Linked DNA regions of Homo sapiens: region 2 is linked to region 1. Evidence: fine-mapped expression QTL. A gene starts in region 1. The other region holds a variant in brackets. All regions are shown on one strand. Distances are from middle to middle. Region 1 holds the start of NSMAF (neutral sphingomyelinase activation associated factor). Region 2 overlaps NSMAF (neutral sphingomyelinase activation associated factor).

Region 1 (16,606 bases):
TCATGCTGGGGACTGGTGACAACAACTTCCTCTTCTAGTGGTTTATAAATAATCTGTCTGATCTAGAATTTGCATTAAACCTATTTATGCACACATGTTCTTTCAGCACCTTTCAAAGTTCCTAGATCATTGAAATAATTCTGTGGTTCTACACTCAAACTCTCCCAGGATTTTACGCCAGGAGACATAAGCACTTGGGTACCATTTGCATCTTCACCCATCTTGCGAAAGTTCATCCTCTTTCAGTCTGAAGATTAGTATTATTAATAGAGTACAAAATAAGAGCTTTCCCTGTCATAAATCAATGTTACACCTGGTACCAGGCTAGGCCTAGGCAGCAGCCCAGTACTTCCTAGTTCCAAGGGCAACTTTGGAAGTTTTTTTGTTTTTATTTTTTTAATCTGTACCATTTTTCAAAGGTTCCACTCATTTGGGGCTTTAACCTTTTTGAAATTAACTATGTATAACCTTCTTGTTTTATATTAAAACTAATAATTATAAACTCAGAGAAATACTACCTGTACAACCATTCTTTATTTGCTAGCCTGATTTTCTTTTTCTTTTTTAGCTTCCTTCCAACATGCAAGCTTGCCTGATTTTCTGTAACTCCTCACAAAAGATCATTTGGATTAGATGTTCTTAATTGTATTTTTGACAGTTTCACAAACTTCCTGGGTCAATATGCTTTCCAAACTGTCCAGTAACAGCACCTATCTTTTTTGTTCCTTGGAACTTTCAATATCTGCTTTCTTAAAATTCTAGGTTCTATGTATGACAGGATCCCTCTCAACTCTCCTGAGCTCCAGCAATAAACAACTTGATATGACTGCTTTTTATGATGGTTCATTTCATTGCTACTTGGTTAATAATTTGTCTTTAATATTCAGAATTAAGTAAAGTTCTCAAGTTTAGGATAAATTAAAACTTTAAGAAAGGAAGTCAATAAACTGTACTTAGATTTCACTAAGCATTTCAGCCAGTATCTCTATTGCCACTTCCTGTTTTCCCATTTACACCAGGTACACAGCCACCATTTCTTCCACCCACTTAACGTGGCCTGTAACAAAAGAACACAATCATGTTATCTTTGTTCCTCTTTCCAATTGTGTTCTCTGGGATTTTTTCCTGGGGTTTCATGGATTCCCCTTCAGATGTATACCTTCTTAACATTCAGAGCCCACTGCCTCACCTCCTGGCAGGTCTTTCCTTTTCAATAGGTCTGCAGCTTTTCAACACTAGATTCCAATCTTGGGTCTCATCTTACCCAACTCCAGTGACACCTAAAACACACATTAATCCTTTTTTGTTAAAAGACCTGGCTCATTTTATTATCCATGTTCTACACATTTGCAGAGAGACATCTGAGGGACTAAGTATCATTTCTAGTTCCTGTACCAGTTGTTTTCTCCTATAAATTACTGGCCCTTCTTCCCTCCCAGAAAGAGTTCTCATGAATTTAAACAATTTCACTATTTCATCTGGCCTTTTTAGCCCTTCCCCTCAGTAATTAGGTTAAAGCTTTCTATCACTCAGCTGGACTCTAGAAAATTACATTCTCCCTGACTATGTGAGATGCAGTGACTTCCAGCCAAGATGGTTCAGATATCAAAATCCCTTTCACTGACACCATCCATAAAGCCAGTCAATTCTATTTTCAAGTCCCAGCAATTTATGAGAAGAAATGGTAAAAATGTCATCTATGCTCTCAAAGTCCTCCAGTTTCCTCATCAAGTGTCATACTGCAGGGCAGGAGGCTTCCCTCAGCCTTTTTATATGTACTATCAAGAAGTTAAAGAAGGAAGTTCAGTTGGAAGGAACAAACAAATAAAAAATCAAGATGAATGCTGAATTACTGTTATCTAGCGCAGCGCTTCACAAAGGTTAGTGTGCACACAATCAACTGGGGATCTTGTTAAAATGCACATTCCAAGGCAGCAGCTTCAGGGTGAGGCCTGAGAATGTGCATTTCTAACAAGCTCCAGGCACACATGCGCTGCTGGCCTGTGGACAACACTTTGACTAACAAGATTCTGATATCTACATAAAACAGGCTTCATTCATTCCTGAATCAGTCTAAACTTCAAGGATACCATAAAAATAAGCACTGGCCAGTAGCCCACAACCTAGTATTTAAAATAGAAGCAGTATGGTACAGTGGAAAAGAGGTTGGACTTGGATCAGAGAACATTTGTTCTAGCCTTAGTTCAGCTTGGCTCCAAATTTTCCAAAACTTTTAGCTTTAGGAAGCTCAAGCAGGATAGATGAAGAAAAAAAAATCTATATCTAGACAGCAAAAAACTACAGAGAGGAGATCTTAAAAGCAGTCAGAGAAAAGAGAGATTACCTACAAAGAACAATTAGACTTAACAATATTGGTTTGTTGCAGGCTGGTCTCCCAGAAGAGAAGGTGGCCTCCTGCAAAGTTTCAGGGAAAACTGCTATGATTGTGTTTAAGGCAATCAAACCTCATCAACCACAAGGCTTGAACCCTGGTCCCCTGACCATGCCAGGAAAAAGGCTGGTGTTTCCCCAATCAAGAACAAACTCTGCCACATTATACAGACTTAGCCCCAATCAAGCCAGCAAGGAGGTAAGGATATCCTGCAGCCACACATGCTGAGCTGGGATGAGTGAGCCAAGGTTCCATCACAGTATGGTCCTACTGTACTCTGGCCCCTGGTCACTCCCTGGAGTGCTGGTTTCTCCTGAAGTCTGAAGTTGGCCCAGCCAGGTAGCTGAACGTTACCCCAGGGGGACAAGGCACAACTATCACTGACCTTTCTCTGTGAGGTACCCCCCCAACACCCCAGAGCACTCCAGCAAGTCTGATGCATATTCCCTGGCCCTTTGCCTTTGTTTGGATAATCTTCAAAATGCTGAGAATTAAACATCTAGCAAAACGGATTTTCAAAGCAAAAGGAAAATAAGGATATGTTCAGACAGACAAAAACAGAGGTGGTTTATCATCATCCAACCCTGATCAGAGGAACTTCTAAAGGATATTCTTCAGGAAAGAGAAAATAATTCCGTAACGAGGATATGACATGTAAGAAGGAATATTGAACAAAAACAATGGTAAATATGCATGTAAAACTACAGAAGCATTAACCAGGCAATTAGTAATGTACAATCTGTAGGTTTAAAATAGAGATAAAAAATACCGGACAATAACAGACTATAACTGAGGATGGGGGCACAGCAGTTAAGTGTTCCAAGGTTCTTACACTGGTAGAGAGGAGAGTAAAGATAATGATTAGCTTCAGATCTTAAATTTAATATGCTTATGTTTTAAGGATAAGCATTAGAAAAACAAATAAAATATATAACTTCCATACTCTTTGGGGAAAAATGAAAGGGAGCAAGGGGGCCTTATTTAATCCAAAGGAAGAAGGGAAGGAAGGCAAAATAAAAGAACAAAACTAAAAAATAAAAGTGAATTCAGATATATTTGTAATAATAAATGTAAACAGACTAAACTAATTCATTAAGATAAAAATTATCAAAATGAATCATTTAAAAAAAGTCCAAGTATAAGCTATTTATAAGAAACAGGCCTAAAGCCTTAGGACACAGAATAGTGAAAAGTAAAACAATGGAAAATCCCATACAAAGCAAATAACCAGAAGAAAACTGATATAGCTATATTAATATCAGACAAAATAGAAAAAAAATTACTAGAAGTAAAGAGGTCATTATATATTGATAAAAAATTCAACTCACCAAGAAGATAACAATTCTAAGTTACTTACTGAATACAAGTTAAAAAAAATAACAAAAAGATAATTTTCAAAATCTATGAGTTGGACATTTTAAGACACAATTCTAAATATCTGATGGTTAAAAGATGAAATGACAATGGTATTTAGAAGAAAAATAGCACTGAATTCCTTAAATGACCATTCCTATTTTATATCACACTAAAAAAATTTTTAATGAATATTATATAGCTTACATACTCAAAATCCATTTATGGATAGATTCCTGTGACTTCTCAATGGTAGACACTTTGGAAGAGGTTAATTTGAGATAAAAGGAAAGTAAGTGGGTAGGCTAGTAATACATTTTGGGTAAAGTCAATATAGAGTCTAAATTAACCAAGAAATTTGCAACATTTATTTCCTCTCCCGCTGTTTTTCATGTGAGAAAAAAAAACCCTATTTCTTTAAGTCACAGTCGGATAGATTTCTTGGGACCTATCGGCATTCCTGACGAATTAAGTCCTGACTTTATCTCCACTGATCTCCAGTTTCAACACCTGGTATATCCCACAAACAGATCTGAAAAGACTGGGATGATAAGCCTTAGAAATGAAAGATTAAACCGAAGTACCACAATCACTTTGCCCTCTTGCCAAGTGCTTTTTATAAAATAAATATAGACACAATTGATTAAACAAACATATTGAGTAAAAGAAAGTTGGGCCGGGCGTGGTGGCTCACCTGAGATCGGGAGTTCGAGACCAGCCTGACCAACATGGAGAAACCCCATCTCTACTAAAAACACAAAATCAGCCAGGCATGGTGGCGCATGCCTGTAATCTCAGCTACTTGGGAGGCTGAGGCAGGAGAATCGCTTGAACCCAGGAGGCGGAGTTTGCGGTGAGCCAAGATCATGCCATTGCACTCCAGCCTGGGCAACAAAAGGGAAACTCCTTCTCAAAAAAGAAAAAAAGAAAGAAAGTTAATACTAGCATAATCAAGAATATTATACACTCATGGAATGTCTGAAACAAAGTTGAAATCTCAAAGTGCCTGTTAAACTATTAATGTAATATGCAGGCACCAAATACAGAATTCAAGATCACTAATTTCCATCCTTGAGTGGAAATCTGTGGAACTTACAAAGCACAATTAAGAATTTATTCTATGACATTACAGAGATAAAACTATGACTCTTCCTCAGAAGGAAACATATCTCAACTATCTAAATTTCTTTTCTATTATGTATTTATTTATTTTTGAAACAAAGTCTCACTCTGTTGACCAGGCTGGAGTGCAATGGCACAATCTCAGCTCACTGCAACCTCTGCCTCCCAAGTTCAAGCGATTCTCTTGTCTCAGTCTCCCGAGTAGCTGGGATTACAGGTGTGTGCCACCACACCCGGCTAGTTTTTTTTTTTATTTTTAGTAGAGACAGGGTTTCACCATGTTGACCAGGCTGGTCTCGAACTCCTGACCTCAAGTGATCCACCCACCTTGGCCTCCCAAAGTTCTGGGACTACAGGCATGAGGCACCACACCTGGCCTATTTATTTTTTAAATAGAGAAAAGGTCTCCCTATGTTGCCCAGGCTGGTCTCAAACTCCTGAGTTCAAACGATCTTTGTGCCTTGGCCTCCCAAAGGGCTGGGATTACAAGTGTAAGCCATGGCACCTAGGCAAGTATCTAAACTTCTACATTACCCAAGAAATAGCTGTCATCCCAACACTCCACGGTGGATAGTAAAGCAAAAAAATTTAACAATTTGCCTACTTTAGTCTACTTCTAAATCATAAAATAGAAATGTCTTTTTTTTTTTTTTCTTTGCGATAGGGTCTCACTGTGTCACCCAGGCTGGGGTGCAGTGGTATGACCATAGCTCACTGTAACCTTGGACTCCTGGGCTCGAGTGATCTTCCCACCTTTTAATATATTTCATATTAAAATAGAAATGTCTTAAATAGAAAGTCTGTATAATATCCTCATCTACTAACCCAATGTATACACCTGCCATCCCTGACAAATCCAAGGAAGACATGTGAATTGCCTTTAACGCCTGTAATCCCAGCACTTTGGGAGGCCGAGGCGGGCGGATCACGAGGACAGGAGATCGAGACCATCCTGGCTAACACGGTGAAACTCCGTCTCTACTAAAAATACAAAAAATTAGCCGGGCGCTGTGGTGGCCGCCTGTAGTCCCAGCTACTCGGGAGGCTGAGGCAGGAGAATGGCGTGAACCCGGGAGGCGGAACTTGCAGTGGGCTGAGATCGTGCCACTGCACTCCAGCCTGGGCGAGAGTGAGACTCCGTCTCAATAAAAAAAAACAATAAAAAATAAAAAATGTTTTCAATTTACCCTCACCAACACCTGCACAGGACATTTTTAAAAAACAATAAAATCAATATGGTTCCTGCTATCTAAATCTTTTTTTTGTTTGTTTGTTTGAGATGGAGTCTCGCTCTGTCGCCCAGGCTGGAGTGCAATGGCACCATCTCGGCTCACTACAACCTCCGCCTCCCAGGTTCAAGCAATTCTCCTGCCTCAGTCTCCCAAGTAGCTGGGACCACAGGCGCACGCCACCATGCCTGGTTAATTTTTGTATTTTTATTAGAGATTGGCCAGGCTGGTCTCGAACTCCTCACCTCGTGATCTGCCTGCCTTGGCCTCCCAAAATTTGGGGATTACAGGCGTGAGCCCTGTGTCTGGCCTGCCACCTAAATCTTAACCAGGATATAAGTATACTTATTTCGAATGGCCAAGTGTCTGTTTTCTAATCCTTAAAATTACCAAAACATTTATTTATAAACATCAACAATAAATGGCACCACTTTATAGTTATTCAAACCAGAAGTCTGAGAGTAGAATTTCCATGTTTAGCAAATAAAAATATCATATGCCCAGTTACATTTGAATTTCAGATAAATAATATACTTTTAAAAATTTTAGTATAAGGGCCGGGCACGGTGGCTCACGCCTGTAATCCCAGCACTTTGGGAGGCCAAGGCGGGTGGGTGGATCACGAGGTCAGGAGATCGAGACCATCCTGGCTAACACGGTGAAACCCTGTCTCTACTAAAAATACAAAAAATTAGCCGGGCGTGGTGACAGGCGCCTGTAGTCCCAGCTACTTGGGAGGCTGAGGCAGGAGAATGGCGTGAACCCAGGAGGCGGAGCTTGCAGTGAGCCAAGATCACGCCACTGCACTCCAGCCTGGGCAACAGAGCGAGACTCTGTCTCAAAAAAATAAAAATAAAAAAAATTAGTATAAGTATATACCAAATATTGCATATACTATTGCATTTACTTATACTAAAAAAATTTTAGTATAAGTACATACCAAATATTGCATATACTATCGCAATTACTTATACTAAAAAATTATTCATTGTTTATCTGAAATTCGAACTTAACTGGGTGTGCTGTATTTTATCAGATAATCCTAGCTGGAATTCTTCCTTTATCACCTCTCACAGACAATACACCACACCAAGACCTGTCAATCACACGTCCTAAAAACATCTAGAATCCATCCACTTTCCTCCATTTATTCTGCCACCACCTTGGTTTAAACCACCAATGCAAGAATCTCCTAGTCAGTCTCTATGCTTCTGCTTTTGCAGGAATATCAAAGTACATCAACCTAACAATAAGAGAAATAAATGCTCATTTCAAGTTTCTTTTCTGGGGTCAATATTTGGTAGCTCTGGAAATCTAAAATCCCTTAATTAGCATGAGAGCCGCCAGTGAACTTACAATGAACAGGTTGAGGCCTCTCATGGGTAACCTCTGAAACAACCCCTCTTCAAGTTTTCCAAGAAAAGTAACAATTTTCCTGGGTATGCTGGAGCCAATGACGAATCCAATCCATTTGCTAATTTGTGTTTATTGATGCAAGGGGATAAACCCGGAAAAATCTGGGCAGAAATGGTAAATTTGGGGCTTAATAAAGTTGCCTTAAAATATTCCTCTGTTTCAGAATGAATTCTAAGATTTATAAAAGAGACTCCTTGATTCCAGTGCATACCTGATGTGAGACAGATTCCTGTCATTCAAATGCATATTCTATGCATTGAATGGAGTATGCCCATCAGCCCAGGTTGCAAAGCCATGGGGCAGAGCACTAAACAATTTGGGCACTCAGCAAGTTATAATTCAAATAAATATAAAACACATGGCGCCAACTTTTTCAGATGACTGATGCTCAGGAACAGTTGATGCCTCCTGACTGGATAGATAAATGTTTTGGTTGCCAAGAGCTAGAGTTCTCTCTGAACACTGCCAGCCTATCACGTTGTTGTCTAATCAATGAATTCTAACAAAGCAGCATATACATGGAAATGCAAGTACAGGTTTCAAGGTTTGTGTGACACCACGGAGCTGTATGAGCTAGCCAAATTGAACACAAATTACTTCATCGAAATAACAGCCAGAACCAAGGAAAAAACGTTTCCCTGTATATCAAAAAGGCCAATATGAGTATTGGCACGAATGACTCATATCATACAACATGATGCCAATTCAAGTGTGTCAAAGTTCTCACAATTTAAATATGAATGTTCACCCACTCAATACAGAGCACCAACAAGTCTTAATATTGTTGGTACTAAACAAAGAATCTCCACTCAAGCTCTTTCCACAAGAAAAATGCATTACAAATTCAGTCAGAAGGGCATCCCCAAGTGTGAGTTACATAGTTAGGGCTCAGTTATTTAATAAACAACCCTTTCTGTGACTAAAACCTAATCACATCACCAAAAACATTTTTGAAAGCCATATCTGAGATACGTTTTCTGTGTATCGTATCTTCTTCTCTACAGTAGAAAAATGACATTTCGTACTGTGGACACACTGGTTAGACCAACATTACAGATTAGAGAAAGATGAATGTCTGGATCAAAGGGGTCGAGTCAACCCTTATAAAACAAGTGTAGACAAATCTTGAAGTCTGCACTTGTATTCCCACGTGTAACCTGCTTTGCTGGTATTCACTGATGAGACAACGTGACAGGCTAGCAGCACTGGAAGATCTGTGGCTCTCACAATCAAAACAGTGTGTCTGTAAAATGATTCAGCCCCCCTTTCCTTTTGGCATCTGAGCTGCAGACCGAGCAAGTTGTTTCTGTCACCAAAAATGCCCTGGGAACTATACATAGAGCCGAAGTGAGCTTTCTTATGAGACTTCCCTTGGGGACAGGTCCAGCATATCTGAAAGGGAACTGCTGTGAGACCATTTTAGCTCAAGGGATCCCAAATCCTTACTGGGATGCTGGTGAGAATGAGTGCTCCGCTGCCGCACCGCGATTTCGACTGCAAAGCTTTCCAACACAAGGTCCACTGCGCGGGGAGCAAGTGTTTGGGAGGCAGGACCTTGGCTTTCCTCAGAATCAGGCCTTTCCGGCGGCCCCCCTCCCAGCCTTCCAGGGCATGGAGCTAGTCCTGTGTCTAAAGGAGTCGGCAGGAAAAAGGCGCGGCAATGCGAGTGGGTGGTCGCCGGCCTGCTCGGTGCCGCCCGGCGACCAACTCTGCGGCGCCGGCGCCGAGTGCCTGGACCCGATTAAGGGGAAGGATTAGAAAGGGGGTGCCCGCCGGGCAGCGTACTCACCCTCCCCTGCGAACGCCCGGGCTCGCGTGCCGGGATCCACGCCCGGACCCCGCGCGGCCTTCCGGGTGAGCTGCCCGCGGCCGCCGGGACCTGCACTGCCGGATAGCTCGGCATGCCTCGGCTCCGCGGTGGAATCTGGCCTGGCCCGTCATCCAGTTCCTGTCCCCGGCAGGCTCCGGCCCAGACCAGGCCCCCGGCCTCTCACCCCGACCTCAGGTTTCCGCCACAGCCCCCAGCCCAGGCCCTGGACACGCGTCCGGCCCCTGCCTCCGTGCCCGGCCCCCACGCCGCCTCCCGTCCCTCAGATCTCCGGCCGGCGTCCCCACGACCGGCCCCGACTAGGCCCCCGGCTGGGCCCTTCTTCAGCTGGGCGCGCACCTCTCCTTGGAGTAGAGCTGCAGCTGCTGCTCCTGCTGCTTCTTCCGGATAAACGCCATGGAGGGTAGGCGCGGGCGGGCGCAGAGCGCACAGGCAGGCCCCGCCGCCGCCTGCCGAGGAGGTCCGGAGGAGCCGGGGAGGGCGGGATTGGTGGCCGGCTGGGGAGCGCGCGGCTGCCGGCCTGGCTTCCCCTGCGGCGCCGCTGGGCGGCCGAGAGCCCGACGCGGCGTCCCGGCCGCGCTCACCGCAGCATCCTCGCGTGGGGACTCCGGCGGCACCGTGACTCAGGCCCGGAGGAGGGGCGCGCGGTGACACGAGGCGCCCCAAACTCAGGCCGCCTCAGAGGATCGCCAGGGCCAGCGGCCAGACCAGGATCCGACCTCACACACTAAACGTTTCACCACTTTACCAACCATTGCAGGCTGCGTTTTAAATATTTTACGCATAAAAAGGGATGCTGGCCCATAAACCACCAATCTGTTGGCCACAAAGACTTGAAATAACAACGTTTTGTGTCCTCCATTGTGAAAAAAAAAAAAAGACGGAAGTTAAAGGGGTGAAGGCAACTCAGTCGTAACTATTCCAAATACACCAGGAATAAGTGGAGATTTATAGCCAAGGAGCAAGGAGCAGGTGTTCGGAAAACTGCTAAGAGGAAACATCAATTCTGGGGGAAATTCTGGCTGAACCAACCTAACAGGAGTCCCAGTGAAGGCAGGCCAGGGGGTCAGATACTAAGGGTAGGAGTAAAGAATTTTGATCACATATGGAGGGTGGGGGATTCTTGCTAAACTGCCGTGGCAGTGTTACTTCCTAACACTGCATTTACAAGGAAGTGCACACAAGGACCTGGGAGAAGATTCAGAAGCCTAACTGAAGTTTGGCCAAGCAAAGAATCTTTAACACAGTCTCTTGATTGTTGAGATAATTGCTCGCATGATTTTTTTTTATATAACAGCTTTATTGGGATATAACTCACATACCAAACAAGTCAACCATTTAAAGTATACCATTCAGCGATTTTTAGTATATTTCCAGATATGTTCAACAATCACCACAATTTGAGAACATTTTCATCACATGTAAAAGAAACCCATACCCTCTAGCTGTCACTCTTCCTAACTCTACCCTCCAAACCCCAGCCCTAGCAAACAATAATCAATTTCCTGTCTCTATGGGTTTGCCTATTCTGGATATTTCATATAAATGGAGCCATACAATATGTGGCCTTTTGTGTCTGGCTTCTTTCATTTAGCGTAATGCTTTCAAGGTTCATCTATGTTGTAGCATGTATCTGTACAGTACTTCGTTCCTTTAGATTGCTGGAGCATATTCTGTTGCATTTTGTTTATCCATTCATCAGTTGATGGACATTTCAGTTGTTTCCACATTTTGGCTATTGTGAATAAGGCTGCTGTACACAGTCATGTACAGTTTTTTTATGGACCTATGTTTCCATTTCTGTTGAGTGGAATTGGAATCTAAGAGTGGAATTGCTGGATGTGGAGGCGAAAGCAGCTCCATCTTGGAAGCTAATCCTCCGTGTTGACTTCTGATTGACCCCAGTTCTGGGAAGGCCTCTAAGATTTCTACTTTATCTATTGTTCCTTGTGTAAGAGCAGGTATCTACCCAGTATGTTCTGTCCTTAATTCAAACAACTTGATGTTATTATACTTCAATTGTCCTACACATCCCTTCTGAACCACCCCTCCCCTATGGTATATAAGCCCTAAGGGGCTGGAGTGATGGCTCATGCCGGTAATCCCAATGCTTTTGGAAGTTGAAGCTGGAGGATTCCTTGAAGCCAGGAGTTCGAGACCAGCCTGGGCAACAAAGCAAGACCCTGTCTCTACAAAAAATAAAAAATAAAAATTACCTGGGTACAGTGGCACACACCTATAGTCCCAGCTACTGGAGAGGCTGAGGCAGGAGGATTGCTTGAAGCCAGGAGTTCGAGACCAGCCTGGGCAACAAAGCAAGACCCTGTCTCTACAAAAAATAAAAAATAAAAATTACCTGGGTGCAGTGGCACACACCTATAGTCCCAGCTACTGGAGAGGCTGAGGCAGGAGGATCACTTGAGTCCAGGAGTTTGAGGCTTCTGTGAGCCATGATCGTACCACTGCACCCCAACCTAGGCAATACAGAGAGAGAGAGACCTTATCTCAAAAGAAAAAAAAAAAAAAACATTGAGTCTGGGGGTTAATAGCACAGCAATCCACCATCTCATCTTGCTGCCCAAGACACAGATATGGACATGGCTTCTGTTCCTTAGTCGCTATTAAATGTTTCTTCCCAAGGAACTTTATTTGTCAGCCTCTTTCTTCCACCTCCCGGCATCCCAGGACTTTGAGATAGATTTGTATAGGCCTGCCCACCATGGAACTGGGTCATATGGTAACTCCATGTCTAAATGTTTGAGAGACTGCCAGACTGTTTTCCAAAGTGGCTGTACGATTTAACATGCCCACCAGCAGCGTAGAAGGGTTCCAGTTTCTCTACATCTTTACCAGTATTTATTATTACCTGACTTTTGTTTAGAGCTATTCTAGTGGTATGAGTGGTATCTCAGTGTGGTTATAACTTCTTAATATATGCTGAGAATGAGCCTCTGATTGTTTACCTTTGAGGGATTCTTGAATAACACGCCTCTAAGTTTCTTTTTCACGTTAAACAGGTAATGTGCCAAACTCGTAACAAGGTTCAAGGGCGGCACATCACACAGCTGCACATGAACACCCAATCATCACACTTATGAACTACAAAAGGATCCAAACCTCTAAATTGTATGCTTGTGGAAACATATCTCATACTGTCTTAAGGATCAGGTTTTGCAGGGTTACATTTTTAGAAGCTTCAAGGTAAATGTACATCTCAGCTTTCTCTAGTAAGTCGCAGGACTGTGAAGAGAAGGTAGGGAAACCAAGAATAAAAGTTGTGGCTGGGTCTTTTGAATTTGACCCCTAGCAGCACTGGACAAAATGCTATGTATACTGAGCACACCCATTAAAAATTTTGGGAATGAATGAAGGTGCCTGGGTACCCTTTGACTGTGACTGAGTCCCTTCCACGTGTCCAAGTGCAGTGCAGAACCTGTAACACATTAGGTCAACATTCCTGGAGGAAATTGTGATGCTGTCTGGTAGCCAAGAAATAAATACATGAGCAGGTACACAATGAAATAAGATAATAAAATTTGTCAAAAGGTACATGATAAATTTCTTTATGAGAAGTACTACAAAAGGTTCTGTGAGTTCAGAGGAGAGATTAATTTGGCTGGAATAAGGAAAAAACAACAACAAAAACCCAGAATGTAAGTTATCTTCTTGAAGTTAAACATTAGAGGAAGATTAGATGTGATCGAATAGGCAGAGACTGTTAAAGAATCTCCTTAACCCAACTCTAGCCAAATTCCTCTGAGCCCACTTCTCAACTAGGCCTCAACCTTGGCCTATAAAAACCAGACTCCCAGCACGAATAATTTAGTCCAGTCCCCATCCCCCACATTAAAAGACTTAAACAAACAAACATAATTTCTAACAGCTTGAGGCCACATCCCTAGCATAACCCAGCCCCACTTAATGTACCTGTCTGAGAAAGCTCAAAGCAATTAAAAGAATTTACTACTTATGCCCGGCACGGGTGGTTCACGCCTGTAATCCCTGCACTTTGGGAGGCCAAGGTGGGCGGATCACCTGGGGTCAGAAGTTTGAGACCAGCCTGGCCAACGTGGTGAAACACCATCTGTACTAAAAATACAAAAAAGTGGCCGGGCGTGGTGGCGGGCACCTGTAATCCCAGCTACTTGGGAGGCTGAGGCAGGAGAATCGCTTGAACCCAGGAGGTGGAGGTTGCAGTGAGCCGAGATAGCACCATTGTACTCCAGCCTGGGTGACAGAGGAAGACTCCATCTCAAAAAAAAAAAAAAAAAAGAATTTACTATTCATTCCAGCCAACATCTGACACAGGCCCCATCTGATATAGTAAAGCCAACATCTGACATAGTAAAGGGTGTACTCTGACCACCCTTTCTTAGAACATTTACCAAAAAGGGCTTACAATTGTGAATCACTCCTCTGTCCCTTTAAGATGTATATGTGTCTCCTACAACTCACAGTGTCTTTCTCAAGGACCTGAAATCTATTCCTTTGAAATGTAATCATTAGGAAGTATAGGACCTTGTCTTACAGGCTCTGTGAGAAAATAGAATCTCAACTTCAATAATGACCAGCTAGCGGACACAGCTGACCTAATCACATTTACACAGACCATTCCTTTCTAGATTTTTAATTCCCTTACTCTATTCAGCCCGATTTCCCCTTCCCTACTCCCTCATTTTCACTTCAAAAATGTCCGTCCACCTTTGCACAAATCAAAGTTGAATTCGTGCTGACTCCTGACCCCTATTGCAATAATGTATTACTGATTAAAATCTGTCCTTACCATTTGAACTAGTGTCTGATTTTGTCTATCTTTGGCAGAAAGAAGGGAAGAAACACAATCGAAGGGATTGTCTTGAACAATAACTCAGAAGAGACACGCTTCCTTTTTAACAGTTTGTGTTCGTGGAGAATTGAGAGAACTGAGACTGGAGCTCCCTCATCCTCCCCTCACCAAAGCATCCACCCTACTAGCATCTGCCCTCTTATGCTTTGTCTTCATTTCTGCTATTTTAAGGTATATTTGCTCCTATCAAAGGCCAACTTCTCCTTTCTTCCCAACAATTTAGCCTTTGCGATGACCCTTTCTTCTTTCTTTTTCTCTCTTGCTTTCTCTATTTCTCTCTCACTGTTGGATCATTTCTATTTGAATATAAATGTAGTTTTCAAAAAACTTTCCCTTTATCCTACATCTCCCTCCAACTCCCCATTCACAGAGGAACTTCTTGAAACATCTGCCTATACATGCTGCTCCATTTTCTCACCTTGTGTTTTTTTTTTGTTTTTTGTTTTTTTTTAAGTTGGAGTCTCGCTGTGTCGCCCAGGCTGGAGTGCAGTGGCGCAATCTCGGCTCACTGCAACCTCTGCCTCCCGGGTTCACACCATTCTCCTGCCTCAGCCTCCTGAGTAGCTGGGACTACAGGCGCCCGCCACCACGCCCAGCTCATCTTTTGTATTTTTAGTAGAGACAGGGTTTCACTGTGTTAGCCAGGATGGTCTCGATCTCCTGACCTCGTGATCTGCCCACCTCGGCCTCCCAAAGTGCTGGGATTACAGACATGAGCCACCGTGCCCGGCCTCACCTTGTGTTTTCTGGAGTCCATTCCAATTGGACGTCCAGGCTAGATGTGGTGGCTCACACCCATAATCCCAGCATTTTGGGAGGCTAAGGCAGGAAGATGTCTTGAGGCAGGAGGATGGCTTGAGGCAGGAGTTCAAGACCAGCCTGGGCAACATAGTGAGACTTCATCTCTACAAAAAAATTTTAAAAAATTAGCCGGGCATGGTGGTGCGTGCCTGTAGTCCCAGCTACTTGGAAGGCTGAGGTGAGAGGATAGGTTGAGTCCAGGAGTTTGAGGCTGCAGTGAACTCTAACTACACCACTGCATTCCACCTTGGGTAACACAGCAAGACCCTGCCTCCAAAAGTAATAATAATTGGACTTCTATTTCCACCACTCCACTGTAATGGTTCTTGTCAAATCACTACATTCATTGATCACTTTTCTAGCTTCATCTTTCTGAGCTACCAGCAGAATCAAATGTAGTATAACATAGCATTTAACGTATCTCCTCACTGGAGGGCTTTGCTCCCATTACTTCTGAGAGCCCACAGTTTCTTTGCTTTTCTCCTACCTTGATTCTTTCTTCTTGTCAGTCTCCTTAGTTGGTTTCTCTCCTGACTAATTTCTTAATGTTGATTCTCTGTACTCAATCTCCAGGTAATTTCAACTGGTGCCATGACAGAGGGCTGTTGAGAAAAAAATTTCTGATACAGTTTGAGCTTCCCAAATCAAAAAATTCCAAATCCAAAATACTCCAAAATCCAAAACTTTTTGGGTGCTGACATGATGCTCAATAGAAATGCTCGTTGGAGCATTTTGGATTTCAGATTTTTGGATTAGAGATGTTCAACCAGTATGTATTCTGCAAGTATTTCAACATCCAAAACAAAATTCTGAAACCCAGAATATTTCTGGTCCCAAGCATTTCAGATAAGGGATACTCACCCTGTAGTAGCACATTCTTTTCTTACCTGAAGAAAATGGGCAATCGCCATTCCCTTACACATGTTATGACTGCCTTCATGCTTTTAAGCTTCCTGTCCTCTCTGTCTAAAATGCCTTCCTACCTTTCTACCACCATTTCTTCCTGTGAAAATCCTACCTGTCCTTTAAATTCCCATTCAAAACTTATTTGAAGTCTTTTTAATGCACCCAAGTGGAATTTATCTCACATTCACTTACTCAGTACATATTTATTTCACATCAGTGTATGTCACGCATTCAGCTGGGCATTAGTGGGTAGGTGCCTTTGAGACTATGGTTGGATAGGGATGTGAACAGTGACCCCATTTTACCTTATAAGGCCTATCTCCCTCTTTGGGTTAGAATCTCCTTGGGAACAGAAACAGTGACTTGTTGGTCTTTATATCCACATTGCCACTAAATACAGTGTCTTGCACTTAGCAGTTGCCCAGTAAATGTTTGTTGAATTGAATATTGTGCTTTCTTTTGTCAGCATGTGTATCTATTTTGATTTGTTATACTGTAAATAAAAGAAAACTCAGTCAATAGTTGGAGTACATTTCCTCATCATTGGCATGGATGGCACAGATGTTAATAGAAGCCTGACTTTTCTCTTAGACTTGTAGCCTTTTGATCACAAGATCACGTTCCATCACCATGATTGTACTTAGCTTCTGAGGAGAAATAAGGAGGAAGGGCAGGGCCAGCCTTGTGTGTTTCTCTTATTAGTAAACCAAAAG
Region 2 (16,606 bases), 68 kb before region 1:
TAGGTAATGAGTAGTGCTGTTCATATTACTTTAGTTCTATAGCATACTTGCATCTTTAACATGCTATCATAGTACATTTAGAATGATTGCCTTTGATTTTTTTTTTAAATTCTGTGTGTGTGTGTGTAAAATGCCAATTAAGAACACTGGTTTCATTCCATGTAAGCATTAAACAGTGTATGTAGGTTTCAAGAGATTGTGATGATTCTTAAATTTTAACTACCTTCACTTAATATGCTTGAACTGTCGCCTTAACTATGTTAAGCATCTAGACTAAAAGCCAAAATATAATTATTGCTGCCTTTCTAAAAACCCAAAATGTAGTTCTCTATTAACCTGAAATGTACACTAGCCCAGAACAGTTTAATGGTACTTACTGAGCTATAGCATAGCTGCTTAGTTGTTTTTGAGATTTTTTAGTCAACACATAATGGAAACTTCTTTCTTCTAAAAGTTGCCAGTGCCACTTTTAAGAAGTGAATCACTATATGTGATGTAAAAGTTATTACACTAAACAGGATAAACTTTTGACTCCCCTTTTGTTCATTTGTGGATTAAGTGGTATAATACTTAATTTTGGCATTTGACTCTTAAGATTATGTAACCTAGCTACTTTGGGATGGTCTTAGAATATTTTTCTGATAACTTGTTCCTTTTCCTGACTCCTCCTTGCAAACAAAATGATAGTTGACACTTTATCCTGATTTTTTTCTTCTTTTTGGTTTATGTCTATTCTAATTAAATATGTATAAATAAAGTTACATTTTAGTCTGTCTATTACTGCATCATTTGCTTTCACCAAACTTATGCATGATCTAGAAGACAGGCAGGTGAAATTCACTTTCAGCTGTGGGAGACATCATCTCCCAGAACAAGCTGACATTCAGGGGCCCTAAGAACAGCTCTCAGTGCTGAGACTGAGTGTCAGGAAAATTGCTTCCAGCTGGGAACCCCAGATTACCAGGGCCAAAAGAAGAGCTGGTTCACACCTGCCATGCAGCAGGAACTCATTGAGGCTACTGATTGTCCCTAGCAATACCTGAGACCAGGTAATATTTAATAACACTGAAACTGACTTTGGAAATTCTATTAGTGTGGTCTGACTCAAGTTTTTTCTCCTATGTCATACTACCTGCAAGATACAACAATGTTTTTAAAGAGTATAGAAAAAATAATAAGTCACACACTTACCATGGTTCAGAGGTTGAATATAAAAGGAAATCTGCTACTGCTATACAGCTTACCTTGTTTGAAATTTAGAAGAGAAAAAAATATTTGATTATCTACCTGAGTCTGAAGATAATTTCAAAATAATGGAATTACATTCATATCACTAAATATGGTTTTCTAGAAGATGATTCTAGACTTGTGGTCTTAAAAACACTAGTCTTTTAAGTTACTTAAATAAAGTGAAAACAGCTTTCTTTAGAGAAAAATATTTTTAATGTAGAAAAGATGAATAGCTGTAATGAAATACAAACCGTTCCTATACACAGTAAACTTACTAAGAACTGCTAATCCTTCTCCAGGTTCTTAGAATCTGGGTACAGCATTATAGAAAGTAACCACGCTATGAAAACACACACCCAAAACCCGATGGGTGGCAATTGTGATAGATTAGGAAGACAAAACAGATTCAGAAGTAGCAGAGAATACTGCACATTTTCTTGGAAAATTTCTTAATTGTTCAGTGCTTTCTGACAAGTTTCCCCAGCCCAATTTATCTCTTAGCTATTCTCTGCTACTTAGTCCTGTCTTCTGACAATCATCATACGGGGACGATCATCTGCCTTACAGTGTAACATGTTTTTCCTAACACAGCCGCATTTTATCTGCCCTAAGAGAATAGCAACTAATGGCTTTCAATGAAGTCACCATGATTTAGAAAGTTTAAAACCACAAATTTTCCATGTGGTAAAACTTCTAATTACTAACATTGCACATTCACCAGTCCGTTTAAAAGTTTGGTTTAAAAATGCATTAAATAGAGTTCAATTTAATATTCAGGAGAGGAAAAGGCACTTAATACTGCAATTTCCAGAATATAATTTGTCTGTCTTCCCCTCCTGTGATGATACTGCTACACTGTTCATTCATCCATATACATGTCACAGCACCTGAGAGAAAGACATTTTGGTTAGTTAGGAAGTTGACCAGGAGGCACCCAAAGATAAACTTTACTCTGATGCTTACTCTTGCTTTGCTATTCATTTACTAAACAAGTGAAGTAAGTTCTATTTTTTCTTGTCTGCTTCCTATAATAAAACCCTTGAATAAATTAAAAATAATTGCTTGGTACAAAGATCTTGTGAGGAATACTAAACCATTTAAGTGTAAATCTAAAGCTAAAACAACTGGGAATTATGGATATAGAACAATGCAAATAAATACCTTGGCGAAGTAAGTACAATACAGGTATAACATGACAAAAGTTGGGAGACAGATGTGAAGGAAAAGGTGGGGTTATTGGTGTAAGGTTATTGGTTTATTTCCTTTTCCACTGGAAGGGGTCAAATCACATTAAAGTTACTAAGTTGAGAACAAAAGTCACAAAGAATTTCATTTTTTTTGAAATAGTCTCGCTCTTGCTCTTACCCAGGCTGGAGTACAGTGGCATGATGAAGCTCACTGTAGCCTCTGTCTCCTGGGCTCAAGCTAGCCTCCCATCTTAGCCTCTTAAGTAGCTGGGACCACAGGCGTGTGTCACCACACTTTTCTAATATTTCTGGTTTTTAGTAAGAGATGAGGTTTCGCTATGTTGCCAAGGCTGGTCTCAAACTCTTGACCTCCCACTCTGGCTTCCCAAAGTGCTGGCATTACAGGCCTGAGCCACTGAGCCTGGCCCAGACTTTTTAAGGTATACATTTAAGAAGAACCATATGAAGTCGAGTGACACAGGGAAGAGAATGAAGGTAGGAAGTTACTGCTTACAGTGGGAACTCAAGGGATAACAAGAGACACTAGAAGAATTAAAAACCAAGTCCTCCAAATGATCAGAAAGCAAGCAAGAATTTGTAAGCAAACAATCTAGTGAATCTCCAAGAAATATTACCAAATGAAAAACATGGGCAGAACAGTTTATTATACTTCACATAAACAATTTAATACACATATACCCTCTCTTATTCACAGGACACACACTGGTAAAGTACTGTAAGGAGGACTGGGAGGTAGGAGTCAGCGGTAGAAAGAAGCCTTAATTTTCATTGTAGTTCCTATTGTATTGTTTCTGGGTTTTTTTTTTTTCTCTTTTTTTACTATTCTAAAAATTTAAGATCATGCTATTACCTTTAAGAAAAATAATAGCTTTACGATGGTTTTTAATTCTCCATATGAAAGTTAAAGACTTCCTTTTTGGAGTCCAATGGCTGTTAACATAAATCTAAATCCTGAGTAACCTACGAGATGCAGATCACCTGGCCAATCAAGAGGCTCCAGGGACATGTTTACGACATGGAAAAACCATGGGTGTTTTTTGCCCAAAAAGAGTATGTTCCCTGATGGAAAAGGCAGGCTTGAGTTCATTATCTTGAGAACAAAGATCAAGGCAACTGCAGTAGCTGCTTACCTGTGTGGCCCTGTATTCTCTCACTGATTTTTGCTCCAAGGAGGTCCCAAACGAGCAGTTCACCAGACTGACTGCCAGATAAAACGGAATTTCCATCCCAGACAAAGCACCTGCAAGAATGATTTAGAAATAGTCCTTTCTTCATCATGAAGGAAGGATATGTTGAACTGGCCAATGTAAGCCCAAATGAAGTGATCATGAACATGTCTGTAAATGTCTTCGCCCCCAGTAACTCACAAACTATACCTCTGGGGCTCATCTGATGTCATGGAGGAGATGAGCATTCCTGTCTGCACATCAATGACATTAAGACAGCCATCTGTTCCTGTGCTGAGGACATGGCGACTATCTGCAACACAAGGTGAGACTCAGATATGAGTGACAGCTTCAGAATGTGGTTTACATTATTCTGGATTTTATTTCTGAGTCCAGTGGCCTAATCTCCACATTCGTTTTCTTCAAAATCCTTGTACTTAAGCAATGACTATCCTCTCCTTGAAATGGTTCTAGCCCTTTCCAAGATGTAAGGATGAGATGACCCTTTGATTATGAGTTCATTTTTATCTTAAATTAATTTCTCTAATGAGGAATTAAAAATACCCAGTCCGGCTTTTCTACCTGATACAAATGCCACAAGTATACTGTACCCTGGCATAAAGCAGTGTTAGCCATTGGCAAAACCTCTTTTATCAGCAAATAGTGTTTTTCTTTGTAAGTTTTATTGTTTATTTCAAAATTAACAATATTGTTTATTTCAAAATTCCAATTTACCTAGTATTATCTGTTTTAAAAAGGATAATATCTACCTGGGCTAAAAGCAGTGTCACATACAATCCCTGAATGGCATGGAATCTGGTGCATTAAGGTGGCCGTTGTGAGGTCCCAAATATTCACTGTGCCTTCTTTGGTGCCGGAAACTAACAGTGTGCTTGCAGCATTTAAACTGATTGTATCTACCTAAGGAAGAAAACACATTGATACATATTCCATTAGATTTATGGTCATTAGCTATGTTTCTCTAGTCTGGTTCAAATATGTAGTCATCATGATATAAATTAAACTCTATTGTGCAGTATGCCGGTGTTGCTAATGCAGATGTATTTCAACATCATCCTACGGAATAACTTATTTTAAAAATGAAATTAAATTCTTTATAAGCTAGGGAATACAAGAAGAAATGAAGTATTGCTAAAGTAAAGGTAATGCTGTTTTAAAATAGCTTAAAACTGACAGTCTCAGAAAGATAACTCTATGAATAATAAATTATAGTGAGCCGCCAAAGTGCCTGAAGCACAGCCAGTCCATGATTATTTGAGGGATTTGTGGGAGTGGCGGAATCTCTCGAGGCTATACTTGCACATCATCATGAATTACATACTAAATATTTCTCAAACTCAGCTAATCTGAAGACCATGGAAATTAGGCATCAGTTCACAACCTTAGAGAAAAGGCAGTACTGTCAACTACAGCATAAGATGCAGCAGCGTGACCCAGAGAAAACAGAGCAAGTGAGAACTGAGCCAACAGGCTGCATGTACTTGACCATCCCAGACAGCTGGTCACTGTCCCCCACTGTTGGATGGGTGTCTCCTGGACAGATGGTTCCCTTCCAGCTTCTGGATCAGAAAACATGAAGGATCATAGGCCCTATCTTGTTGCCCCAAAGAGTTTGAGGGTACCAAATATTCAACGTCCTGCTCAGAAACTACTATTTTGGAATTCTAGTTGGATGGTAGCTAATTCTCAGGGAAATGTGCAAAGAAGTAACTTGGAGAAAAAATAAAACAAAACAAAGTAGACTTGGAAACCTAAAGAGTCAACACAAAGAAAAGAACTGAGATTTAGCCTATAATCTTCCATTAACCAAATAAAGCAAAACAACATGAACAAAACCAAAAACCTTCTTCCAGCCGAACCCCTAGACTTTTAAGGTCAGTTTTCTGTACAGTTTGTTGCTGGTACTCACACTGACATCATGTTCCAGCTCGGCCAGCAAGTCAAAGTGGTGTCTTTTGGTGCCTGGCATCTCTGCAGGAACACCAGACCACACCTAGGATGGAACATATTGCAGAAGGTATTTTCAAACATTTAACAAAAAGTCATTTTCTAGTGCATTCAAGAAAAACTCCTATGCTCAATTTCCATTTAACAGACTTGCCAATAAAGTTAAGCTGCACAGTGCTCCAGCTCCTCCTCCCTATGCCTGCACTTTCTCCCACCAGCATGTGCTTGCTTACTGTCCCTTGCTTGTACCTGTGTGTTTCTATCACCTGCACTTGCTGCTGTAATCGTGTGACTTTAGTATGTGAACTAAGGAAATATGAGTGTAGAAGTATTACAGTGTCTTGAGAACACTATTAATGTTTTGGGAAGACCAAAAAGGATGTTACCCCCAAAATAACTAAAAATAGGTACAGGCAAATAAACTTATCTAAAAGAATGGAAGAAAAATTCTGAAAAACTCCTGGAGGAATTCTAACAATTTTAGGTTCTTGCTTTCTTTTACACCAACACAAAATAGAAACTGAAAATAATGAAAGCTGGCGTGGTTTGTGTAAGATTTCAAAGAAAAGACTGAACATATTCCTACATCGAAAGAATGGTGAATGAATGAGCATTCAGATATTTTCAGTTTAAATAAAATGTGTCTTTTAATGATTCCTCACTTTAACTTGACATTTTCTTTTTTTTTTTTTTTAAGTACAGTTTCCATTTAATTTTTCTCCAGAGAATAGCCTGTCTTCAGTCTTTAAGAACTCAGCTCCTTACATGGGCTTTGGTGGGGGACGTGGGGCAGCACCCGCAGGTCTAAATTGGGGTGGGGGTGTTCGGTCCTTGCAGGCTTCACGAGATCGATTCCTGACTACTTTGCTGTGAATTGCACAACTCACACAGTAATGTAGCTTCACATACAGCTTGGGAAGCAAATAGGCATCAAAGATGCTCGCTTCAGAAATGTCCCTGACTGCTGCGGCCTCCACTATGTTTCGAATGACGAATTTCTTAATGGCCTTGTCCTTGGGCATGCATCGGGCACAGTTAGTGCAGCGAATAGGCTGCACGTGGCCGCGGCCCTTTTTGGCACGACCATTGTTCCTTCTTTTCTTTGTCATCTTGGAGGCACGGACCGGAGAGAGCTAACTTGACATTTTCTAATTAACTATAATCAACTAATATTTCTGATCATGGCAGATGAAAGGGGCTGCTACTATACATTTCTTTCTAACTCTGCTATTGAATGAATGCTAGACCATTCATCCCACAATGGAATACACAGTACAGAAATCATGATAAACTTATTATATTAAGAAGTGGCTATAATTCCCACTACTGCACTCTAGCCCCAGCCTAGGTAACAGAGCAAGACACTGTCTCTAAAAAAAATAAGTAAATAAGGAAGTGTTTTTTTTAAACAAAAAATAAAAAGAATGTACATATCACAAAGTATGTGATACGTAAGGATATTGAATGTTATTGCCTGTGTTTAAAAAATATATAATATGTATTATATAAATAAAAATATATAAATATATGTAATATATAACAGATATTATATTTTAAATATAAATAATATATAAATATATATTATAGATATATTTTATATGTATTTTTTAAACACAGGCAATAACATTCAATATCCTTACACTCACACGCTTTGTGAAAAAGAGTGGAGTGACTGAACACATTAGCAATAGGTAGTTGAGTGGCTTATAATATCTGTATGTACATTTTAAGCTAAAAATTATACATATGCCATATAGCACACCAAGTTAAAAAAACTTTTTAAATTATATATGAACCTTCACTGTAGAGTCCCACGATGCAGAATATAGCCTGTTGTCATGCCAACAGATCTTACTAACAGCATCATCATGTCCCATTAACGTGTCCTGGCGTCTTCCAAATGCTATGGAATAAAAATAGCTAAAAGATAATGAGAAGCATTAAAACAGTAGTCTGGCTTAATTTTAAGGCTCCTAAACATATATTAAAGAAACATTATGTTGTTTCATTCTATACTTACTAAGGCTCACTAGAATTACAAATTGCTTGTTCTCAAATTACTAAATCAAAATATTCAAAATTTGAATTTAAAATTAGAAATTTCCATGTCTGGCTCATCTGTTTTCTCCTCAATTTAAAACTTAGAGAAAAACAGACTCCAATTGGAGAAATTATTCAATCTAAGCAATCATATTCAAATCCAACCATACTGTCCTCATCTCTAATATCTGTTCCCTTTAGAAAACAGTGCTGTGTCCTGGCAGGGAAAGCTTCTGGCTTTTCACACCTCATGTCCACAGAGGCAGCTATTCTGCACGTCGAATCACAGAGCAGGGTGCACAGATACATACACATTATTATCCCATGAAGAAGTTATGACAGTGGCATCTCCTGGTAAAAGTAAACAAGACGATAAAGCCTGAAATACAAATGATTTGACGTTAACAATCTATAATAATTAGTAAGTCTCTAACACAGTAAAGCTATCTTATACATTTCCGAAAAATTAATGCTCAAATCGTCTTTATGTGGCTCTCCTCCTATTTACGCAGATTTTCTCAACTGGCTAATTCCAGCTGTAGGGTTTTTTCCCAAATGCAGGAAGGAATGTCCATGTATGTCAAGGGTATTTACGACCTAGCCTGATGACTCTCCAGGGTCCTGCCCTGGGCTGGAAGAAGCCCACTCACACTCTGGAGTAAATCTCCAG[T/C]TGGGGGCAGACTGGGGATGATCCTCAAGAAAGAAAATACCCCCTCTGGACTACAGACTTGTGTGGGTAAGAAAACCTTCCAAAATTCTTCAGAGAATTTCCAGATCTTTTGCATGATTTACATTAAAAATAAAATGTGTTCTTTCAGAAGAATTGGTTTTGTCATATTAGATATCCTACCAACTCAGAGATGCATAAATTAAGTAGCACATAACATTTAGTCTGACAGCTAAAAAAGGGAGAGGTTTATTTAAGTAGAATTCTACTGGGTAGCTCTCCAAGTATTTTAAGCTAAAAATGAAATCACAACAGTAAGAGAAAGTGGTAACCTGAAAAAAATTTTACATTGAAATTAGAAGTAATCTAACTAAGGTATCTGGTAGATTTACTACACAGGAATAAACTCAATTGTTTTGGGAGAAATAAAGTATTATTGTATGGGTGTGTATAAAACAAACTACTACACGGATTTCTATCATAATACTATTAAAATGAACTCACCATATTTGAAAATGATATACTTCTTTGTAGCATTTTTGATTCTTTAGAAAACATCTTCAAGGTGGAATCTAATTTAATAATGAGAAGTAGATATATAAGAAAGATTTCCTAACCATTACAGACGTCAAAGAACAGCTGCTCTTCTTGTTCCTGGTGGCCAACAGTACACTTTATACTCCAAAGTATAATCTTATGGAAAACCGAATGTAAACAGAGCTAGATGACCTAAGGCCTCATCCAACATTAAGATTCTATGACCTGTAACCCCATGACAAAAACATCAATTTAAAAATCCAGCACAGACATGGTAGGTATACTGTTGACATTTCAGCATGACTGCAGGCAGAAATGTGGTAGCTGGTATATGCAGAAAGTTACAGGGAGGAAAATAGCAATTTTAATAGTAACAATGAAACAGTAATTTTAATACTAAATAAGACAAAAAGATCTTGGCAATATGTTTTCTTTAAAAAAACTGCCCAATTATATATAGTTAAGTGTGATACCCTTGCACTGAACATTAGTTATAGAAGGGAACCACTGACTTTCTAAATAATAATAAAGTAGAAATTAAAAATCCAAGCATTTAATTTTCTTGTGTAACAGAAACCTTCCTTTTTTTTTTTTTTTTTTTTTTTTTGACACAGTATCACTCTGTTGCCCAGGCTGGAGTGCATTGGTGTGATCTTGGCTCACTGCAACTTCCATCTCCTAGATTCAAGCAATTCTTGTGCCTCAGCCTCCCGAATAGCTGGGATTTTTTGACGTGCACACCACGGCTGGCTAAGTTTTGTATTTTTAGTAGAGACTGGGTTTCACAATGTTGGCCAGGTTGGTCTCGAACTCCTGGCTTCAAGTGATCCGCCCCCTTCGGCCTCCCAAAATACTGGGATTACAGGTGTGAGTAACTGTGCCCGGCCTCAAAACAACCTCTTAAAACCCAAGACTCACAAATTACAAGGCTCTAATGTGCTTCAGACATCCTATATTTGAGATATGTAACAATCTATTTTCTAACTTACACAACGTGATGTCGGAATGATCTTTAAATAATTTCTTCTGCACAGTATAACTTAATAATTCAACCCAATTTTTGCAACCCCAACACACAGAATTCCTGACAATTTATAAACATGAGCCTCAATAAGATATTCTTCAGCATTAATTTGAAAACGAAAACAGAAGAATGAACACAGTATCACTTGAACTTTCCCCTGAGCAGTATAATTAGATCTGATAGTCTTCCCAACCTTGCTTTTGATTCTCTTAGGCAATTCTGAGCATTCACCACAAAATCTATTTAAGATGATTAATTTGAGACATCCTACAAAAAAAACCAGAAACCAGTCGGTTCTATAAAGATGTTTTTCTCTCCTTGATGTCTAGTGGTTAGGATTTGGTGCTCTCACTGCAGCAGCCTGGGTTCATTTCTCAGTCAGGGAACCAAAAAAATGGAAAAAGAAAATAATAAAAGAAAAAAAAAGACGTTTTTCTTGAAATCAAGGATCCCCTGTACTAGAGGTCATCATGTTAAAGACTGCAGTAAAAGCTAAGCTCATAAGTGGTGGGTTCTGTGCCTGCCCACATACCTAAACATACTGTATACTAGAAGAAGATATGTAATTTTGGGGTGACCATCAGGATACATATAAATCAGTAATATGAATTATGAAAATCTAAATATGAGAAAAACAAACAGAAAAAAACAAAAGCTTTTGACTTTATTTTTAAACTCTCTCGGCCGGGCGTGGTGGCCCATGCCTGTAATCCCAGCACGTTGGGAGGCCGAGGCAGGTGGAACACCTGAGGTCAGGAGTTCAAGACCAACCTGGCCAACATGGTAAAACCCCATCTCTACAAATATACAAAAATTAGCCAGGCACGATGGTGGGTGCCTGTGAACCCAGCTACTCAGGAGGCTGAGGCGGGAGAATCGCTTGAACCCAGGAGGCGGAGGTTGCAGTGAGCCAAGATCGTGCCATTGCCCTCCAGCCTGGGCGACGGAGCAAGACTCTGTCTCAAAAAAAAACAAAAACAAAAACAACAACAACAAAAAAAAAACCTCTCTCTCCTTTATTGTGAAAATCCACAGAGGAGTGACATAATGCTTAATAAGCCTCAGTGGTTTGAAGCCACAACGCTCATCAAATTCATGGTTAACAAGGTCATACAAGTACAACTGTGCTGAACGATTTAACAAGCCATCCCAGACAAATCCTGCTAAGAACACAGGTTTTGCTTAAAGATAAAGCACTTTGTCTGAGGCTATAATTTTTGGCAAACTCCACAGGTAGAAATCCTGGCAAAATACAGATTGCTTCCTTCTATCAGAGAAGTGCCTCGGTGACCCTGGCATGGCCCAGTTTGGGAACTGCACATGAACTTCCTTTTGATCTACTGTGTAGAATCACTTCTATGCTTTGTGGAAAATTTTTTTATATACAATCCAAGACAGTATTTGAAAAAGAACAGAATGAAATGCTACAGATCATAAACAATGATAACAGAATCTGAGAGTAGTAATTCTGATTTTCCTGAAAGTGTTTAGTTGGATAGCACTTTGTCTTAATGAATGAAAAATATAATCTCCTATGATAAAGACTAAATAACGAGTAGCCTTACTTTATAAAGTTACAAACTTTGTCAGAACAAGTTGTTTTCTCATGGAAGCAGGAAGCAAAGATACTACCCTTCCATCTCTGCATCTTCCAGAGTGCCAACACAGTGCTCTCAACATGACAAGGCCAAGACATACTTTAATGAATAATATATAATGCAGACTACCAGGGAGAGAACAATGGTGTATATAGTAAGGGATGCTTTCTGCTTTACAGCTATAAGTCATATCAATGACACACTGCAAGGGTTTTTATAATTTTGATAATGTATAAGCATATTAAATAATACATGAATTTGATTTTGAGCTAAATCAAATATCCCGAAGAAATATACACTGAATGACAAAACTGCAAACCGTAACAGCAAATCTGCATTTCCACGTGCTGACAGGCACACATCAATTTCTGATACAGCACTTGCTACTCACAGCCAACCCCAACAAGTGGACAGCGCACCTCTCATGGGCAGGCAGGAAGTGCCTGACCCAGCAAGGGTGTGGAAAGGAGGCTGTTTCTGTCCTCTATCCTCAACTCTGGGAAACCTCATCAGCAACAGAAAGATGTTTCATTATTATTTTTGGCAAATTACCATGAAACTCTATGTAATGTACCACAAAGGAACTGCTCTAAGTTTACTTTATGTGGAGGCAGCACATGCAAGTGCAGTCCTTGACCACGAGCTAAATAATAAAGAACTCAGACATTCTAGGATTTTGGTTAAGCCGCCTTTCGGGGAGGAACACTGACCTTGGGATGTTGTGAATACTGAAGATCCATTGCGAGAGACCGTGATTCCAGTAACTGCTCTGCTCAAAAACAAAGTTTCACAAATTACTACTCATCATGTGTTAGGATACCCTCTTTGTTTCATATCCTTGATTTAATTTTACCAAGTTTCCTTAATTTTTTTCTTCACAGCATGTCTGCCGGATCTGTCCCAGCATAAACCTGCCATTACCAAATCACTGCTTGGCACCTTCTAACGTTCTGGCAACGCCTGTGGCTAGAAAACATCCCCACTCTTTGCTTCCCTGTGTTCCACATGCAATGCTTTACATATTCCTGACAATTTCTGGCAATTGGAAAACTCTTCTCCTTCTATTCCCCCTCGTTTGACCATCACCAAAAGGACAAACTCTTCTTCACAGTCACTTCACTTGCTGATTACTGAAGCTAATTTACTCAGTGACTATTCAATGATGAGAAAATTGGTTCCAGCCTGTCCTCTTAAAGGATCATTCAGTCTTCACTACCTTGGATTACAAGGTCCCTTCCTATGTGCCATTTAGAGAAGTTGAGAAAAGACAGCCATTGTCATCATGAATCAGCCAAAACTCCTTGTTTCTCTTCGGGAGGCTGGACTGTGATGTGAAGCCATCCATCTAATGCACAGCAGTATGCCCAGCTCCACCCATGACCTGTATGCCGGAGGGGCTGTCTGTCGTCATGGAGCTAGGTGGGGCCTAGTCTCTGGACCTGGGTTTCCTCTCTGTAGCAGGATGAACAGGCTAGGTCAGTGCTTCTCGAGCCTTTCTACCAGAGAACATGAAGGTCTTAATGAGAGAGGGCAGAGAACACACATATCATCTCTGGGTCCAACAGCAAGCCCAATTTCTTAGAAGCATAATTATTTTTAAAATTCATGTGAACTTTGCAATGTTCTCTGGGAGAGCTAATTTTTTTAAAAGGTGCCTTTTCACCTACATTATGTGTAAATCCAACACTCGTGGGGTATACATCACACTTCTCCCATCAAAGATTCAAGGAGCTGTGTACTCCAATTTGAGAGGCACAAAACTGGCTGCTCTCTGCCGACCACATCTTGTACTGTGAAGTGACAGACTGCAGAAATGACAGCACGGTAGCCACCACAAATCATTTCGTGCCAAACTTTCCCTACTACATCAACCTCAGGTGGAGATCACTATAGACATTTTGGGGAGATTTTTAAAAATAAAGACAACATTGAAAGGGAATTTTCCCTCTGACTCAGCTTAAAACAGTTTAATCCCATGCCAAGACCCTAACTTTTACCAGGACTATCAGCTGCTGAGAAGAAGCAGAGATATTCTTACTCTTTGTGGATTTTATAGTGCTCGTGTAACTGCAGTTTGGTGATGTTATTCCAGGCCAGTGTTTTGCTTTCTTCGGTCAGGTCTTCAAAAGACTCTTCACCTGGAGAGACGACATTAAATTTTTGCTAAGTCAACTAAGTTACCAACAGACAACAGCATCAGATTAACAATATTTTCTATTAAAATCAAACAACTAAGAAATGAAACACCCTGTCACAATATAACTGCTTTGAAATGTACCTGTTAGATGGTTCCACGTTAGTCAAGGAAAAAATTGTATAGAGAAAGATAAAAAGTATCTTTGAATAATACTAGAATCTTTTTATACTTTAACAATGTTTGCAAAGTTTTCACTCGGCCTCTAACTTATGAATTTGGGGAAATACAAGACTGAGTCATCATTTCCTTGTCAACATTGTTTCAAAAACCTGACAGTTGCCTAAGAATGCAACAATTTTGTTCTGGTGTGGGGTGGGGAAAGCAGAGATGAAATCAATTACCGCAAGGGCTTCTGGCAGGAGTAATCCTTTTACTTCTGCTTTAAGAAGGGCTGAAACAATTACCATCTTAAAACAATCACATGACAGTGGTTACAGCCTGGTGACTAAGCAGAGTGCAGTTTGAAACAGCATCACAAGATAATCCTGTGATCTTCATGATTTAACCCTCTAGAGTATTCTCTCTTAAAGAAGCTACCCCTGGGTCATGTAACTCCAGGAAGCTATTTCTCCATGCTTGAGAGAATGCTCATCTATGTATGCCTAAAATGTCTGGATGTCCTTGGAACAGACAGGAGGATAGGAGATAAAAAGTGATTTTGCTCCCAAAGCTCCACAGAGTGTCAACCTCCTTCTGGAAGCCTGTAGGTTTGAAGTTGTCTTAGGTAAAATCTAAAACCTGGGTAACTGGAGAAAGGTGAGTGTTCTTTCCTACCTTTCCAAATATTAGATGTGAGAACTGGGTCAAGTTCAATTTAGTGCCTAGCACATGCCCAGCGCAGAACAGATACCCTGTAAATGTTTGTCAAATGTTAAATAAGTGAAATCCAATGAAGAAGAGAGAGCACTTTGAATTCAAGATGTATGTGGGGCCGAGCGCGGTGGCTCAGGCCTGTAATCCCAGCACTTTGGGAGGCCGAGGAGGGTGGATCACGAGGTCAGGAGATCGAGACCATCCTGGCTAACACAGTGAAACCCTGTCTCTACTAAAAATACAAAAATTAGCCGGGCGTGGTGGCGGGCGCCTGTAGTCCCAGCTACTCAGGAGGCTGAGGCAGGAGAACGGCGGCGTGAACCCGGGAGGCGGAGCTTGCAGTGAGCCGAGATGGCGCCACTGCACTCCAGCGTGGGGGACAAAGCAAGACTCCGTCTCAAAAAAAAAAAAAAAAAAGATCTGTATGTGGGTATAGAAGAGCATAATTAGGGCCAGAGAAAGTCCCTTCTGGAAGACAGCAGGGCTGACAGTGACTGGGAAGGCAGACTGGACAGCTAGGACTGTAAGAATGAAAAGGCAAATAGCTAAGGATCAAACACCAGCTTCAAAACCACAGAAGAGAAAGAGAACCACATCAAAACATATATGGCCAACTTTCACTCATATTCAATTGCCAGAAAATAAAAGCGATTTGATTTCCCTTACAGTCTATAGCTGAAAACAAACAACATCAGCAAAAACAGGTATCTGTTTTCAGGAGAACTGCAATAAGGCAGGAGAACACAATCATCTCTAAGTAGCACAACAGTATACGTCTTATCTCCTCTTCAGAAACATTTTCATCACAGAAGAGAAACAAAAGGTGCTCACGTTTATTCTCTTTACAAAATTTACCTGGGGAATCTGCCATAGAAGCATTATAACTGGAGGTCTGGGACAAACTTTTAAACTTTGGGGTGATCCTTCGAGGATGTGGTGTCACAAATAGTTGTTTTGGTGTCTGCCCAAATTCCAAGATTTGCGTAAGCATGGCTACCTTCTCATCAGGATCCTGGATGCTTTGGGACAGAACACAAATAATGCAGTGAACCACTAGGTTCGAGTTCCTTGAAAGCACGCATTTCAAATAGTACTGATCAATAGGAGGGACTAACCCTCAAATAATGACAGCAACTATGTACCAGGATTGTCTAAACCTCATTATAGACCTTCAGAATATTTTCTGATGCTCAGTAACACAACAGTGAAAGCAAGATAGAATTCATTTTAAAATTTCCATACCTCAACCTTCAAATAAATACATTAATAATTTAGATAAAGACATATCTTATAACTCAAGTAGAAACTCCTTATTGACATATAAGTACCTGTTCAAGTCTACACCTCCTTCATAGGTCAGGGGATGAAATACTGAAAAAGACATACAAAACACTATTGAAAGATGTGCTATTTCAATGTAATATACACTGTTTAGAACCTAAACAATGCAACAACTTAAAACTCATGTTCAAAGAAATTGCTATTCACTTTGCAAAACAGACTAATATCCAACTGCAGTAAATACCAACTTGAATATTATCTTCAGATGAACAAAAATCTACTTGTCAGGTAGAGGACCTGTCATCTCAGTCAGCATTGTTTTCTCCTGAGAGGAAGCATGACTTATAGAATTAATAAGACGGAATTTCCATGTAAAAAATTAGGTCTGAATTTCCAGCTACAGCTCCTTGTTATGAACATGGGCGATATGGATTATATGTGAGTTCATTTATTAAAAAAAGAAAACACACATGAGAAACGTGGAAGAAGATAAGCATTGAAACTGAAGAGAAGGTATATTGCTGCTATTTTCTGTTAAATTAAAAAAAAAAACTCTGGCAGCTACTTGGGAGGCTGAGGCAGGAGGATTGCTTGAACCCAGGAGCCAGAGGTTGCAGTGAGCCAAGACTGCACCACTGCACTCCAGCCTGGGTGACAGAGCAAGACTCTGTCTCAAACAAAAAAAAAAAAAAAAAAAAAGAAAAAAAAAAGAAAAGAAAAGGAAAAGAAACTCTGGGTCTTCCATAGGAATTGAGGCCACTGTTCTATCACACTGTAATAGAGTTTTAATTGAAATTATTCAGTGGGATGTAGAGTATATGCTAAAATTAGAAGACTTTATAAAAAGACCTCTTGGGGCCAGGATGAATTTGGTATT

What was found.
Region 2: its variant is fine-mapped to the expression of NSMAF in whole blood (INTERVAL, PIP 0.95).

What each region holds. Positions count from the first base shown.
Region 1 is chr8:58,649,894-58,666,499 of GRCh38, forward strand. NSMAF (neutral sphingomyelinase activation associated factor) reads right to left here and starts at 9,960. Exons shown (of 31, transcript NM_003580.4): 1 at 9,680-9,960. The coding sequence starts at 9,738. It overlaps LOC124902083 (small nucleolar RNA U13), which reads right to left and starts at 12,451; the gene lies at 12,348-12,451. RefSeq lists enhancers at 1,313-2,037, 8,400-8,963, 8,498-8,787, 8,964-9,526 and silencers at 9,238-9,687, 9,698-10,037.
Region 2 is chr8:58,582,084-58,598,689 of GRCh38, forward strand. It overlaps NSMAF (neutral sphingomyelinase activation associated factor), which reads right to left. Exons shown (of 31, transcript NM_003580.4): 20 at 15,777-15,819; 21 at 15,304-15,467; 22 at 13,477-13,576; 23 at 12,149-12,207; 24 at 8,784-8,851; 25 at 7,924-7,991; 26 at 7,369-7,492; 27 at 5,535-5,618; 28 at 4,375-4,525; 29 at 3,815-3,917; 30 at 3,569-3,678; 31 at 1,425-2,117. The coding sequence ends at 2,023. It overlaps SDCBP (syndecan binding protein), which reads left to right. Exons shown (of 9, transcript NM_005625.4): 9 at 1-775. It also overlaps the pseudogene RPS26P7. Among named protein-coding and RNA genes, the nearest start is that of SDCBP, 37 kb to the left of the region's middle. RefSeq lists enhancers at 12,544-13,743, 14,093-14,142. The variant T/C (reference allele first, on the strand shown) is at 8,283.